Linked DNA regions of Homo sapiens: region 1 is linked to region 2. The links come from fine-mapping of genetic effects on gene expression. Tissue or cell type: whole blood. Region 2 holds a variant in brackets; the other region holds the start of a gene. All regions are shown on one strand. Distances are from middle to middle.

Evidence for each region. PIP is the estimated chance that this variant, and not a neighbour inherited with it, causes the effect. A credible set is the group of variants that fine-mapping cannot tell apart.
Region 1: FCRLB starts here. The variant in region 2 is the best candidate, but not a certain one, in a credible set for the expression of FCRLB in whole blood (INTERVAL, PIP 0.87).

The regions. Positions count from the first base shown.
Region 1 is chr1:161,720,406-161,723,071 of GRCh38, reverse strand. FCRLB (Fc receptor like B) reads right to left here and starts at 1,528. Exons shown (of 8, transcript NM_001002901.4): 1 at 1,411-1,528; 2 at 1,222-1,317; 3 at 369-419; 4 at 63-83. The coding sequence starts at 399. RefSeq lists enhancers at 467-566, 647-746.
Region 2 is chr1:161,619,232-161,622,083 of GRCh38, reverse strand. It overlaps the pseudogene RPS23P9. Among named protein-coding and RNA genes, the nearest start is that of TRL-CAA6-1, 8.6 kb to the right of the region's middle. The variant G/A (reference allele first, on the strand shown) is at 1,525.

The sequences.
Region 1 (2,666 bases), 100 kb before region 2:
GTCACTTAGGGGGTTGGAGTGGAAGCTGTAGAAAATTGGGATGAGAAATTTATAAGACTCACCAGCTTGCCCACTGCTTGGAACTGCAGAACAGGAAAGAAGGAAGAGGAAGGAGAAGGAGAATATTGGCGATGAGAGGAGAGAGACTCTTGACGACAAGAAAGGCTGAATGGTCCCAAAACCTGTTTTTCTTCTTCTGCCCCTGGTTTCCCAAGCTCTGAGAAAGCCCCTTCTTCTTCACCCCTCCAAAAAAAGATAATGAACCACTTGGAAACTGAGGATTGGATACCCACCCTCCTCTCCCCATACCTTGGTCCACCCTATTCTCCACCACCCAAAGCTCTTCTGCTGCCTCACTGTGGACTCACCCAGGAGCAGAAGGGCTGTCAGTGGCCACATGATGGATCTGACTGCAGCAGCTGCAGAAGGATGGAGATGCACTGGCATGAGATGGGGAACAGAGAGAAAGAATGTGGCCAGTGGATGCCACTGAGTACTAGGAGACATTGCTGCTTCTCCCACCCACTCCTAGTTCCTGAAGATAGCAGACCAGAACCAGTGGGAGACAGGCTGAATATCAGGTATCCCAAGTGCCAGGCACTGTCTCATCTACCGCATCTACAGCCACCTCACAGCTCAGGCCAGCCCTGACTACTGAAAGGAAGGCCTGCAGAACTTGTGCCCTCCACAGCACAAGAGAGCCCCATAGAACCCCAGGCTCCAGCAGATGACCCCGCCATCTTCAGGCTCCCATTGACATCCCACTCCCATCCCATCCCTTCTCCACCTTCCAGCCAGCCCTGCAAGGCTCAGCTGAGGAAGACACGGCCTCATGTCCTTAAGGACCTTTTTCCTGCTCACTCCTGATGACAGACATTGGCATGAGACCTAGAGAGGTCAGTGTTCGGTTGCCTGCCCCCAGAGCTCACATCCTGCCACAATGAGTAGACGAAAAGGCATGACTCACCAACCACCCTTCACATCCCTATCATCTAGTTCCCCAGTCAAGGATAGAAATGCAATGTGTTTCTTCTTCCTCCCTTCCTGAAATCTTGAGTTCTCATAAATTCTTAAATTCTTAAGAAGTTAGAAAACTCTTCTTTCCTACCCATCCCAATGAGCTCATCCTGTGGCACTTCCAATCACTTGTTCTTTTCTTCCTTCCTCCCACCCTTCCCTGCAACCCCTCCCCAGCCACGCCCCAGTTCCAGAACTCCTGACCTGCAGCAGAGAAGTCACTGCATCGGCCCCTCAGAAGCCTCTCAGATCTGACCTCGGGGCTCTACTTCTTGTGCTTTCTGAGCCATGTGACCGTACCTGAGCAATGAGGAGAACCTGAATTTTCATGTAAATACTTAATGAATTTTCCAGCCTGATAGTGTGTCTCCTTGGACTCTATCCTGTCCTTACCTGTGGTTGTTTAGAACCGGGGCACCTTGATCCCTTGGAAATCTGATGGGAAGGAGATCAATTATCAGGTACTGTCAACTCCCAGGAAGATAGTATCTTCCCCTCTTGCTGATGCCTGAAGTTCCACTCTGAGAGTCCCCTCATATTTTGCTTAATGGACTAGCCCCTTTTAAAAATGCAAATGCCTCTTAGGAAAATGTGACTGGTCATTTAAATTATGCTGGTCACTTCAGATCATGTTTTGAGTGCAGGTTTTGATAAAAGAGATAGAGTCCTGTAGATTTCAAACAAAGTAGGGACATATTTGACAATGTGCCCAAGAGTAGGGGAGGCAGAGAAGAACTAATTACTGGGAACAGGGATGATCACCTGCCTGCTTTAGGAGTGCCTGGGCTGACCAGCACTCTTGTGCTTCCCCTCCATCCTAATAATTCCTCGTCTCAGGGCCAGTGTGTGGCTTCCCACATGATCCACAGCCTGCCACAGAGGTCTGACTTCTGCACCAAGCCACCACCTCAATGGTAAGAATGCAATGCAGTTGTCAGCTGTCCTCTTAGGCAACACAAGCTGGCTCTATTTTGGCTTCTCATCCCCCAGAGCACAGATCTCAGCCCCTTTACTCGATTCAGAAGAAACCTTAGTACACCAAAACTTTGTGAACTGTATAGTCGTCCCTAGAAACCTCTGGAACCATCCATACTGTTCATATTATACAGTGCTCAGAATTTGACTTGAAAAATTTCCCACGAAATATTTATTTATTCTAGGCTCTCCTCTAAGTTTTTCCCAAAGTGAGTCTTTTTACTCCATCTAGGACTTTTCCCCAGAATTTCTAATTCTTCACTCCTTTACAATGCAGAAAAATTTAGAAATTATCATTTGTAACTTGAGCAATTATTTGAGGCCTATCACAACATAACATCTGGACAATATATGTCACCATTTGATAAGCATTCTGGTGATAAAGTGTTCTCAGTGATAATTACAGTAATGAACTAATGCTGTTGTTGCTGATGACAGCTCACTTTAGTGTCTCGGCATGTGGCAGGCACTATGCTAAGTGCTTCACAGATATTACTGCACTTAATTCTTGTAAGGCCCTTTGAGGAAGAATTATTAATATCCCAATTTTGCATATGAGGAAACTGAGATGATGAAACTGGGATTTGAATAGAAGTCTGTCTCCAAAATCTGTTCTCTTATCTCTCTGATTGTCAGGGATTCAAGATGCTGCTCATGGCCGGCTGTCATTATTG
Region 2 (2,852 bases):
ATTTGTTTTGGTATTATTAGTACTTACTTCCTTTGGTCAGTAAATTTTCTTAAAGTGTCAGTTTCCATAACGTAATTGCAGTGGTTAAGCAGCTAAGAGTTATCACTACAACCCTAGTCGGAAAAACCAAATACCTCAAAATTACCCGTACAGCACTAAGGCAGAAGAGGACATTGGGAACCACACAACGCGGAGGTCAGCTGCCAGGGATCCCGGCGGTTAGCACCGCGGCTGGTTTTGAGAGCCAAGGCTCCAGCGCTCCCGGCGGATAGCATCGCACGCGGTTTTTTTCAGTGAAAGTTTCAAAAACTCAAGGTTCACAAAAGTGGGACTTCTGTCCCGGGGTGGGAACGAACCACCAACCTTTCGTTTAACAGCCGAAGGCGCTAACCGATCGCGCTACAGAAACGGGCGTTGGCGACCTGGGCTGCCAAGTCACTTCACTGAAGAAAAAATGCTCAGCACTCTTACGTCTCCAAAAAATTTGAAGTTGATTTGAAACCAGTGACACAATTAGCTTTCCGTGCTTCAGGGCGCGGCTCACAGCCCTGAGCGAGGCAGGTCTTTTTTCCGCGCTAGCACTTGCCTAGATCTGGAGCAGGACTCAGCTTCCAGCAGAAGAGGCTGAGAAAGGGAGAGCAGAAGAGGATGCAGGAACGAAGGGTCTTCGGGGAATCCAAAATGGATGCTCTCTGTGATTTCGGGGGTTCCGTTGATTTTGGTCAGAGAAATACGACGATAAGCTTTTTTTGCTGATGTAGACAACTTATGTATGCATGTGCACACGTTTAGTGCTGACTCATAAAAAGGTTATTGTCGTGAGCATTAAAAATATTTTCTTTCAGGTCCAATCACGTCCAGCAAAATGTGATATCTAAGTAAGTGAGTTTTGTGTTACAAAATTAGTCTTCAACCCACGCTGTTTTGAAAGGTTTCTACGGGCATATTAGCCATGCAGACAGAACACGGAGCTTAAAAAGCCTGTAACATTCCAATTAATGGTATTCAGCTTGGAAATAAAAAATATTTTTTAAAAAATGCCTGCAACTTAAGGACTTTCATGCTGACATATCCAGATCCAAATGTCTGAGGACAGAGACCCCTAATTCCACCACCATCGACCTAGGGAATCTCGTCAGTGCTGGGTCTAAAAAGCCTTTTTTTTCTTTAATTCATATATATATACTTCAAGTTCTAGGCTACATGTGCACAAGGTGCAGGTTTGTTACATATGTATACATGTGCCATGTTGGTGTGCTGCACCCATTAACTCGTCATTTACATTAGGTGTTTTTCCTAATGTTATCCCTCCCCCCTTCCCCACCCACGACAGGTCCCGGTGTGTGATGTTCCCCACCCGTGCACACGTAAGTTTATTGCGGAAATATTCACAATAGCAAAGACTTGGAACCAACCCAAATGTCCATCAATGATAGACTGGAGTAAGAAAATGTGGCACATATACACTATAGAATACTATGCAGCCATAAAAAAGGATGAGTTCATGTCCTTTGTAGGGACATA[G/A]ATGAAGCTGGAAACCATCAGTCTAAACAAACTTTCGCAAGGACAGAAAATCAAACACCGCATGTTCTCACTCATAGGTGGGAATTGAGCAATAAGAACACTTGGACAAAAGCCATTTTCTATACTGCCCAAGACCCAGGGCCTCTCCATAGCCTCCACACAGAATCTCCTTTCTTTCTGCCCTGCCATCCTCTGTCATCAGTGGGCTCCAGTTTAGTTGCAGGTGGAAGTTTTCAATGATGTTTAGTGAAATGAGAAGACATGCAAACATAGATATGCATATGCAGAAATTATATATGCATATATGTTTATGTGTACACATATTTTATATCTTATGTAAAATACATATATGTGTATCATATGTATACTAAATAAGTAAATAAATAAATTTGCCAAATGATCTTTAAACTAGAGTCATTTATTTTTTTTTAATTAATTTTTTTTTTTGAGATGGAGTCTTGCTCTGTTGCCCAGGCTGGAGTGCAGTGGTGCGATTTCGGCTCACTGCAACCTCCACCTCCCACATTCAAGCAATTCTCCTGCCTCAGCCTCCTGAGTAGCTGAGAAGATTACAGTCATGGGCCACCATGCCCGGCTAATTTTTGTGTTTTTTTTTTTTTTTTTGAGACAGAGTCTCGCTGTCGCCCAGGTTGGAATGCAGTGGCGCGATCTCGGCTCACTGCAGGCTCCGCCCCGCAAGGTTCACGCCATTCTCCTGCCTCAGCCTCCCGAGTAGCTGGGACTATAGGCGCCTGCCACCTCGCCCAGCTAATTTTTTTGTATTTTTAGCAGAGATGGGCTTTCGCTATATTGGCCAGGCTGGTCTCAAACTCCTGACCACAGGTGATCCTCCCGCCTCAGACTCCCAAAGTGCTGGGATTACAGGCAAGAGCCACCGTACCAGGCCTAGAGTCATTTCTTTTATTTTAAATTTTTGTCTCTGTTCTTTTGCTCAGACCTGTGGAGCTGGCAATATGGGCAAGTGTCATGGACTGTCTACCTCCAGGAAGCTCCATTGTCACCGACAGGATCAGAAGTGGCATGGTAAATGGTACAAGAAAGCCCATTCGGGCACAGTCCTGAAGACCAGCCCTTTTGGAGGTGCTTCTCATGCAAAGGGAATTGGGCTGGAAAAAGTAGGGATTGGAGCCAAATAGCCCAGCTCTGCCACTGAGAAGTGTGCCAGGGCCAAGCTGATCATCCAGCATAAGCTAGATGCTGTGGTCTCCACTGGCACAGCTGATCCTCTTGTTACAGGTTGGAGGCTGTGAGGCAGATGAGAGAACAGCAAGAAAATCACAGCCTTTGTACCTGATGATGATTGCTTG